Linked DNA regions of Homo sapiens. The protein of the gene in region 1 purifies or fractionates together with the protein of each later gene. This does not show direct contact. Each region holds a gene or a part of one and is shown in the gene's direction. Other genes may lie near its edges.

Evidence for each region.
Region 2: the proteins of REG3A (region 1) and CMSS1 purify together in Homo sapiens (affinity purification with mass spectrometry; one large-scale study listed by BioGRID and IntAct). This does not show direct contact.

What each region holds. Positions count from the first base shown.
Region 1 is NC_000002.12:79,156,954-79,162,381, reverse strand, and holds REG3A (regenerating islet-derived protein 3-alpha precursor), read left to right. Parts: upstream 1-2,628; 5' UTR 2,629-2,654; exon of another isoform or gene 2,655-2,942; 5' UTR 2,943-2,976; coding exon 2,977-3,052; intron 3,053-3,612; coding exon 3,613-3,731; intron 3,732-3,918; coding exon 3,919-4,056; intron 4,057-4,683; coding exon 4,684-4,810; intron 4,811-5,088; coding exon 5,089-5,156; 3' UTR 5,157-5,376; downstream 5,377-5,428. UniProt on the Homo sapiens protein: Acts as a hormone in response to different stimuli like anti-inflammatory signals, such as IL17A, or gut microbiome. Secreted by different cell types to activate its receptor EXTL3 and induce cell specific signaling pathways.
Region 2 is NC_000003.12:99,823,885-99,828,529, forward strand, and holds part of CMSS1 (protein CMSS1), read left to right. Parts: intron 1-4,645.

The sequences.
Region 1 (5,428 bases):
CAGGTCATATGATAGTTACTGTTCATGGCTTACGTATAATTGACCAAATTTCAGTAGCTATGTTATCAGCTTTCCAGTTCTTTGATGTTAATAACTTCCCTCATTGGCCTCAGGGGCTTTGAAGTTTTGTCCCTTTTTCCTGTTTTATAGTTGCTCAGCACCTAATCTTATCCCTTTCCCAATTCTTCTGACAGTGTTAGGATAAGATGAAAGGACCAAAGTGGCATTCTGGACATCTGGTTAATATATCTCAAAGGGGTGCACTTTAGTGATAAATCTCCAGTGAGATACAGTTCAAGGCTATTTTTGACATGGACCCTGCTGAGCCATCTTCCAGGAAACCTCTACATTTTACCATCCTTGAAACAAATATATTAGGCTCCTGCAAAGAGATCAGTTTTCACTTTTATAATTCTAAGAATGACTACTAAGTCTTATCTGCAAATATCTGATTCAGAAGATAATAGGGATAAAAGTACAAATTGGACATCTTTTGGCAAAGGAAGCTCCTTAAAACTCAGCCTTGGTTACATCAAGAATAAGAATTCCTGTGTCATCCCTAAGAAGTAGATTTTTATATAACTCAAAACCAGCTCAAGAAATATAATATTTAAACAAACTTCTCAGTGCTTGGTTAATAAGCATTGTTATGAAGAAACAATGAAAAATAAAACAAAAACAACTCAACTTTAGTGAGTTTAGTGAGTGTCATTGCAAAGAAAATTTCACATTGCACTTAGGGATTTTATAACCTTAAGGCTTATTACAAAGGTCACACTATTTCAATTAAGAACAAAAGTGAGTTTTAATAATAAACTGTCAGCATTTCAAATCTTCTCTCCTAGGTATCTTGAAATATACAACATATTGTTGTTAACTATAGTCACCCTATGTGCTATCAAAAGCTAGAACATATTCCTCCTATCTAGCTGTATGTTTGTACGATGAACTAAACTCTTTTCATCTCCCCTCACCCGTCTCAGCCTCTGGTAACTATTCTACCCTCTGGTTACCTTCTACCCCGTACCTCCATGTGTTTACATATTGTTGTATAAATTTTGTGGAAAAAAATCCTTTTTAACAAAATAATCTGCTGGCTATATTTCTTCTCATATTATTTGAGGAATTGCATTGAATTTTGGGTACTGAATTTTGAGGACGTGAATTAAGGATGAGCTACATCTCATGACCTCGTCACAGACCCCTACTATAAACATCTGCATACAAGTTGGCATATTACAACAATAGCATGAGAGTCAGGGTCTGTAGAAATTCCCAGCCTAACTTTTTCCTGGACTGGCCAAACTGAACCTGAACCAGTGTATGGGCAATGTAGTATGCTTGTCAGAGGCACCAAACTGCTAACTCAAAAATAAACATGACTAAAAGAACTTCTCCCAGTATACCCATATGAAGCTGACCATTTGCCCAGTAAGAATGCAATGAAAAGGGCTTTTAATGTACAGCCAAATGGCAGTCCAGCAAGGAAGCTCATGAGCAACCTACAAGTAGTGAGCATTTTGATGTAATAGAGACTTACATGCAATTCAGAATTATGTTTACAACATCACAAAACAAAAATTTAGAGATAGGCTCTCACTCTGTTGCCTAAGCTGGAGTGCAGTGGGATGATCATAACTTACTGCAGCCTTGAACTCCTGGGTTCAACTGAAGGTCCTCCTACCTCAGCCTGCTGAGTAGCTAGGACCACAAGCACACACCACCGCAACTGGCTTAAATTAAAATATAAATTGTAGAGATAGGGTCTTAATGTGTTGCCCAGGCTGCTCTTGAACTCCTTGCTTCAGGTGATCCTCCCACCTCAGCCTCTCAAAGTGCTGGGATTATAGACCTGAGCCACAGCACCTGGCCAACTGACCTATGATTTTACACAATGGCTGCTCTTCCCTTCTTTAACTATTATTCATTCTTCTTTGATCCTCATTATTTGACTGTAGTCCTTCTTATGTCTTGTTTTCCTTCATTACCTCTTATTCTATCACATTGCCATTGTCATTCTCCACTGGGGAAGCTCTTTCTTGCTGAAGACTGGAAAGACAAGTCCATTCACCTGATTTTCTGTAAGATTGTGGCTCATGTATTGACTTGTCAGACAATTCTGAAGTTTCATCAAAATTAGCTATCATGCTTGCATAATGGCCCTGAACCCTCACTCCTACTCTTAGCTTCAGTACCATCTATGTCCTCAACTGTCCATGATACTTATAATTCCCGTAAATCTTCACTTAACACCTAACATTTATTTAATCTTACTAGGCAAGGTAATAAGAAATACATAGGTTTGCCTCCAGAAGTGGGTTCTTAAGAAACCCACCAGAGGAACTCCTCTTTCAGATGTCCACATTAGAAGATTTCATATCACATTTGGTGCCACAGGCCTTTGACAAGGAGGATGCAGAGGAAAAAGCAAACTTCACCTCTTCCTAGGGAAAGTGTTGGCCTGCCAACAGGAAAGAGGCAACATCTGGGAAAATCCCCAGTCTTTGCCAGGAAGAGTCCATGCCAACCCCACCCCATGACCCCTGTCCTGCCTACTCATTGTCACTCTTCACTCCAATGTCCCTCCCCCAGATCCTCTTATAAAATCCCACTCTTTCCTGACCAGACAAACCATACCATATCCCACCAGAGAGGTAAGTGGGAGCTGAGAGAAGATGAGACCCAGGGAGGAGCTACTGCACATGACACAGGAGAATACATGGGAGGGTCCCTTCCTCAGGGAGCACAGGAACTCTGAGACTCAGCAAGGGTGTCCTGGGAGGGCTCGGGGATGGGAGAGTACACAGATTCACAACTCATTCAGAACTGTAGAAGATGATGGATGTGACCAAGATCACTTTAGTCCTAGGGGACTAGAGAAGGAAAATGACATGAGGCAGTGGGGTATCTGTGTGTTCTCCCACTGACCACGCTTTCTTTAGTGACTCCTGATTGCCTCCTCAAGTCGCAGACACTATGCTGCCTCCCATGGCCCTGCCCAGTGTATCTTGGATGCTGCTTTCCTGCCTCATGCTGCTGTCTCAGGTTCAAGGTGAGATTGCTTTGCCTCTAGCACTGGGTTCCCTATGAATCCTCAGAGCTAACAAGAGGAGGAAGGCTCCTGTGTGTCATGTGAGGTAATGACGTGGTGTCTAATGAACCTGCCTGCAGTTCTTGCATCATCTCTCCTTCCTTCAGGTTAACTTGCAGTGGGAGGCTCCATGGTGGTCCACTAACAGTGGAATGAGATGGCTTCCATTTAGTCAGTGGACTCTAATATACACTGGTGGGAAAGTGGACTCTAATATACACTGGAGGGTCAGTAATGAGATGTGGGGAGGGACAATGATTGGAGGACCCAATGTAGAGACAGCCCAGAGTGAGGAGAGTATTGAATGGTTGAATAAGGGGAAAGGGTAATAAGAGACTGGATGGTGCTCCATTTACTACGGCTATTTTGAGATAAAGAATTTCTGAAAACATAAGGGAAGATGAAGGGGTGTCAGGAATGTGGTCTTCCTCCCCAAGGACATTCCTAGGTATTCCCCAAGGTCATCTCCCACCCCAAGCCCCACTCTTCATTTTACCCTCCCCCCTCTTCTTCCACCTCAGGTGAAGAACCCCAGAGGGAACTGCCCTCTGCACGGATCCGCTGTCCCAAAGGCTCCAAGGCCTATGGCTCCCACTGCTATGCCTTGTTTTTGTCACCAAAATCCTGGACAGATGCAGATGTGAGTGGTTAGATGTGGTGTTGGAGGTGACCGGTCTCAGGGGGAGGAGGGTCTCCATTCAGGAGAGTTCCTTGGGAATGAGGATGAACACGTTTATCTTTCACACAGTCCTCCTCCCACCTACCTTTGCCCTGCCCTCCCTCAGCAGGTCTCAGGCTCCCTCTCATTCTCTTTGTTGCCCTCAAAGCTGGCCTGCCAGAAGCGGCCCTCTGGAAACCTGGTGTCTGTGCTCAGTGGGGCTGAGGGATCCTTCGTGTCCTCCCTGGTGAAGAGCATTGGTAACAGCTACTCATACGTCTGGATTGGGCTCCATGACCCCACACAGGTGCCAGTATATCCTCCCCTCTCTGTTACCTCTCAAGGTGCTATTGTTGCCCAGGCCCACTCCCTGTCCCCTGTGCCTGCCCAGGAAGTACTTCAGGGAGCACTGGAGCTCAGATTCTGGGGAATATTTGGGGGGAAAGGGAAGGCCATGAAGCATCTGAAGATCTGAGTTCTGTGGAGGTCTCTATCTTTCAGATAAAATCAATCTGCCTTCCTCAGGCGTATTACATAATTCTCATATGAGGCTGGGTTAACAATTCTCTGAGCTTCATGGAGTCTTTGCCTACTATTCTGAAGGAACTCTTAATGAAGATAGGATCAATTTTTGTCCCCATACAGAACTGACATTACTTTTGAGGTTCACAAGCTAATCACAAATGCTACATCAATTATTGTTCTGCAAATAATATATTACCTTGAGTTGTTCCAAAGGTCTTATGTTTATTGGCTGGAATTTTCCAATAGCAATGAGGAGTCAAGGAAGAGTTTCCTACTCACCGGCAGCATCTGGAATAGCAGACCAACTTTCCTCATGCTGGGGAGCAAATCAGGTGTTGCAGCTAAGGGGCCATGCAAGAAGAGCTGCAATGGCCATTCCCTTCACCTGGCTACCTCCTCTACTCTACAGGGCACCGAGCCCAATGGAGAAGGTTGGGAGTGGAGTAGCAGTGATGTGATGAATTACTTTGCATGGGAGAGAAATCCCTCCACCATCTCAAGCCCCGGCCACTGTGCGAGCCTGTCGAGAAGCACAGGTAAGAAACAGAGGAGCTGCCTCTTCCCAGTGTTTTCCATCTCATCCCCCATTCCTGGGTCTGACCTTCAGGAAATCTTCCTGAGCTAGAAAATACAATGTTAGTGTGTCTTCTCTTATCTCCTCTCTTCTCCACTTTCTTTGAATCTCTCTCCTGGATTGGGACACTGGTGAAGGTGAGGGAGAGGCTTTAACTTCTAGGCTAAAACCTGGGATGCCCCTTCATTGGATTCACAAGCTTCCTCAGCCCCATTCCATTTATGTCTTCTGTCTCTCCAGCATTTCTGAGGTGGAAAGATTATAACTGTAATGTGAGGTTACCCTATGTCTGCAAGTTCACTGACTAGTGCAGGAGGGAAGTCAGCAGCCTGTGTTTGGTGTGCAACTCATCATGGGCATGAGACCAGTGTGAGGACTCACCCTGGAAGAGAATATTCGCTTAATTCCCCCAACCTGACCACCTCATTCTTATCTTTCTTCTGTTTCTTCCTCCCCGCTGTCATTTCAGTCTCTTCATTTTGTCATACGGCCTAAGGCTTTAAAGAGCAATAAAATTTTTAGTCTGCACTTGTTTGTCTTGTATATGCCAGTGTCATAGCCATACTCTGAGAAGGACAAA
Region 2 (4,645 bases), on another chromosome or scaffold:
TTTCTGTCCTGTCCTTCTGATTGGCTGGCTTTCTTTCTTTCTTTTTTTTTTTTTTTGAGCTGGAGTCTCGCCCTGTCACCCAGGCTAGAGTGCAGTGGTGCGATCTCAGCTCACTGCATCCTCCACCTCCTGAGTTCAAATGATTCTCCTGTCTCAGCCTTCTGAGTAGCTGGGATTACAGGCGCCTGCCACCACACCCAGCTAACTTTTGTATATTTAGCAGAGACGGGATTTCACCATGTTGACCAGGCTGATCTCGAACTCCTGAGCTCTTGATCCGCCCGCCTCAGCCTCCCAAAACACTGGGATTACAGGCATGAGCCACCAGGCCCGGCCAGCTGGCTCTGTCTTAACATTAAGTACTCAGTTCAAACGTCACCTACTCAGAGTGGCGCTTCCTGATCAGGCAGTCTAGAGTAACTATCTAGGTGCTCTATTACATTATCACAATATCTATTAAATTATTATGTTATTATAATTCTCAGCAGAGCACTTAGCACCAACTATTATTTTTCCTTGTTAAATTAATTACTTTTTCCCAGCAGTAGACTGTAAGAGCTCCATGTGAGCAGGTATTTTGTTTGTCTTGTTTGCTTTAGTTTCAGGGCCTAGAGTAGTATCTGGATACAGCGAAGGCACTCATTAAGTATTTGTTAGTTAACCAATTAATTATTAATATTTCGTAGTCACACCTTGAAGACCTCAACCTAGGAGATCTTTATCAAAAGAACCTTGATCTGCTGGCAGATTTGTCAAACTCCTGTCCAGGCTTTTGACAGATTTGGCAAATGCCGCTTTTCTCTTTTCAAAATTACATTAGTAGTCCTTGTAAAACTGTGTCTAACATTTTATTGTAACCATATTTGGATTTAATTTTATAAATTACGTTTGGAAAGAGGACAAGAGACTCTTTGTAAATAAGCCTGTAATTTTTACTGGTGACAGCTTTTGTCACCTAGAATCAATGTGCTTATTCTTTTTGAGATTGCTGAAATGAGCTTTGTAAATATTTTTGTTGTAATATCATTTTATGGTATATTCTTCAAATTATATTGCTTTATCCATGGTGAATTCCTTCTGGAAATGGAGTAGGGGAGCACCTTGGATCTTTTCTTTAAACCCAAGTACCCAGGTTTTTTTGTTCTGTGTTTTTTCTATTTTCACACCAAAGTTAAACCTTTACAGTATTAGTTTTACATATAGACAGTCTTGCATTGTAGATGTTGTAAGGCATTGTCTCTACATATAAAATTCAGACTTGGAATATTTGTAGGAGATGTTAATAACACACAACAGAGGATCGACTTCTGGGCATGTTGTTTTCATAATCATTCGTCAAGCTCTCATGCTTAGCCTTGTTTTAGACACTGTACCAGAATTAGAGGGAAAAAACATAATCAGCTTACATTACAGGATTTACACATTGATGTGGTTCAGTCAAAATGCAAATAGTATTGACAGATATTCAGGGGCAAAACACAGGGGCAGGATGAATTTAAAAAGCAAGGGGAAGGAAAGAAGAAAGAGGAGGGAGAAAAATGACTATGTTATTAGTCATTGCTCTACACTTGAAGGCTGTAACAGATGGACACTTAGATAACCTTCATGGTCTGGTTTAATTTACTGCATATAATTTCCACAGTTCTTTCAGATGATTAAATGAGTGGTTCTTGACAACAATTACGAACATTTAAAGGTGGAAATTTATGCATATTTCCCTAAATTGCATGTCAGGTAGTTCCTGCTATAATTTTGCTAAATGTCCATGAATCTCTTGAAAAATACAACTCATAAATGTGGAAGGCCTATACATAACTTCCATTTCCTCCCTCAGATTCAATAATAATATATCATTTTGTGGCACAAATCTTTTTTTCTTTTTTTCTTTTTCTTTTTTTTTTTTTTTTTTTGAGACAGAGTTTTGCTCTTGTCCCCCAGGCTGGAGTGCAGTGGCGCAATCTTGGCACACTGCAACCTCCGCCTCCTGAGTTGAAGCGATTCTCCTGCCTCAGCCTCCTAAGTAGCTGGGACTACAGGTGCATGCCACCATGCCTGGCTAATTTTTTGTATTTTTAGTAGAGGGGGGTTTCACCACGTTAGGCAGGATGGTCTTGATCTCCTGTCCTCATGATCCGCCTGCCTCCGCCTCCCAAAGTGCTAGGATTTACAGGTGTGAGCCACGGAGCCCGGCCCAGCACAAGTCTTTTATCTGTTGTTAATCTGATGTTATTTAGTGGAACACTTCAGATGCATTCATAGAATTATACATTTTACTAAATATATCACAGCTTGAAATATAGTTTCCCCATTTTTATCAGCTTTCATAGAATTCTTAATTGATTTTTAAATGGCTAATATTGCTTATAAAAAGTAGTTGATCAAGCTCTTAAATTCCTATTTCTGAGTTCCTTGTTCTAGTTCACACTAGACCAGAGGTCAGCAAACTTTTTTCATATAAATCCAGATAATAAATATTTTAGGTTGTGTGGGTCCAGTCATCACCGTCATAACTGCTGTTGCAGTGTAAAAGCAGTCATAGAAAATAAATGTGTAAACGAATGAGTATGGCTGTGTTCCAATAAAATTTTATTTATGGACAACAATATTTGAATTTTATGTAATTTTCACGTCACAAAATAGTCTTATTTTGATTGTTTTTCAACTTTCACAGTGGGTTGAATTTGGCCTGTGAACCGCAGTTTGCAAACGCTGCCCCAAACTCAAAGTCACATCGTGAATTGTATGTCACGTGTCTTCAGGAGAAGAAATTTGAAACAAATCCAGAGAGAATTGTGTTTTACCTTAGTTACTCCGTTACTTAGTAGTTATCAGCTATGTATTAGACCAGTCACATATCTGTTAAAATCAGATATTTGATTCTAAAATATCTCAAGATTAGTTCAGAAACCTTGAAGGTAAATAAATGAAGGACCAGGAAAAGACTTCAGCTTAAAAGTATCAGGTTTTTAACATTTTTGTTACAAATTGGATTTGTTTTCACTCACTTGGATTTTTATCTGCTTACTTTGAAACAGTTCATCAGGTGAAATCACTCTAGAATTATTAGGTCAGCTTCTTTTATTTTCATTTTTCTTCAGAGGCCACACTTCTGCGGAAACAACATGCCCAGGAGGAAAGATGCTTTATATTTCAGTTGTGTTACATATAGGTCAGACATTACTGTTTTGAACTCCAAATAGTATTCTCACTTTATAGTTGTATTTGCATTTTTATTATATTATTAATACATATTGCTTGAAACAAGCATGGTTTTTGGTTGTCAATCCTTTTGTTAAAATATAACTTTATTTATTGTTATTATTTTGAGACAGAGTCTCACTCTGTCACCAAGGCTATAGTGCAGTGGCATGATCTTGGCCTACTGCACCCTCTGCCTCCCAGACTCAAGCGATTCTCGTGCCTCAGCCTCCTGAGTAGCTGGGATTACAGCCATGCACCACCAAGCCCAGCTAATTTTTGTGTTTTTAATAGAGATGGAATTTCGCCATGTTGACCAGACTGGCCTCAAACTCCTGGCCTCATGTGATCTGCCCGCCTTGGCCTCCCAAAGTGCTGGGATTACAGGTGTGAGTCACCGCACCCGGCAAATGTAACTTTACTTTGAAGACTTTTGTCTTAATGGGATTAGAACTGCATTACCATTTAAAGATGAGTTTCTGCTGGTTCCCATAGAAGTGTCAACATTTTTCTACGCAAATTTTTTCTTTTTTTAATTTGAGACGGAGTTTTGCTCTTACTGCCCAGGCTGGAGTGCAATGGCGCAATCTCGGCTCACTGCAACCTCCGCCTCCCAGGTTCAAGCAGATTCTTCTGCCTCAGCCTCCGGAGTAGCTGGGATTACAGGCATGCGCCACCATGCCCGGCTAATTTTGCATTTTTAGTAGAGACGAGGTTTCTCCACGTTGGTGAAGCTGGTCTCGAACTCCCAACCTCAGGTGATCCACCGCCTCGGACTCCCAAAGTGCTGGGATTACAGGCGTGAGCCACCGTGCCTGGCTTCTACCTAAATTTTTTAGTACTTTGTATACTATCTTGTCCCTCTTTTTGTGCTTCCTCTTAAACTTATGCTAGCTTGGATAAAAATGTACTTTAGGAAGTCTCCTGACATGGGAGAAAACAATTTTGAAAGCTTCAACATACAACGTATTTTGTGCTTCATTTCAGAGTAAAATTTTTCCCAAGGTATTTTGTTTTTCTGGGACTATTGTTAGTGCATGTTGTTTTTCCTGTTTTATGCTTCTTTTCAACCTGTTTGGTTTTCACTAAGGGATTCCAATGGGTTTTTTTTCTATTAGCATAATTACCAATGTTGAATGTCACCTGGGCATAACTACTTTTCCTAACCCTGTCATACCATTGCTATCTCTTAGCATGTTTTCTCAAGTGAGAAAATGTCTTGACTGAATGGCCTTCTCTTCTTCATTTACTCATTCTCTATTCACTCTAGATTTATCAAATACCTGCTCTATGTGAGGCACAATACTAAGCACTCTGTACATACGTGTATTTTTTTTTTTTTGATGTTAGAGCTTCATCACTGCACCCTTTTTTTTTTTTTTCCCCACAAACAAGGTCTTGCTCTGTCAGTCAGTCTGGAGTGCAGTGGTGTGATCATGCTCACTGC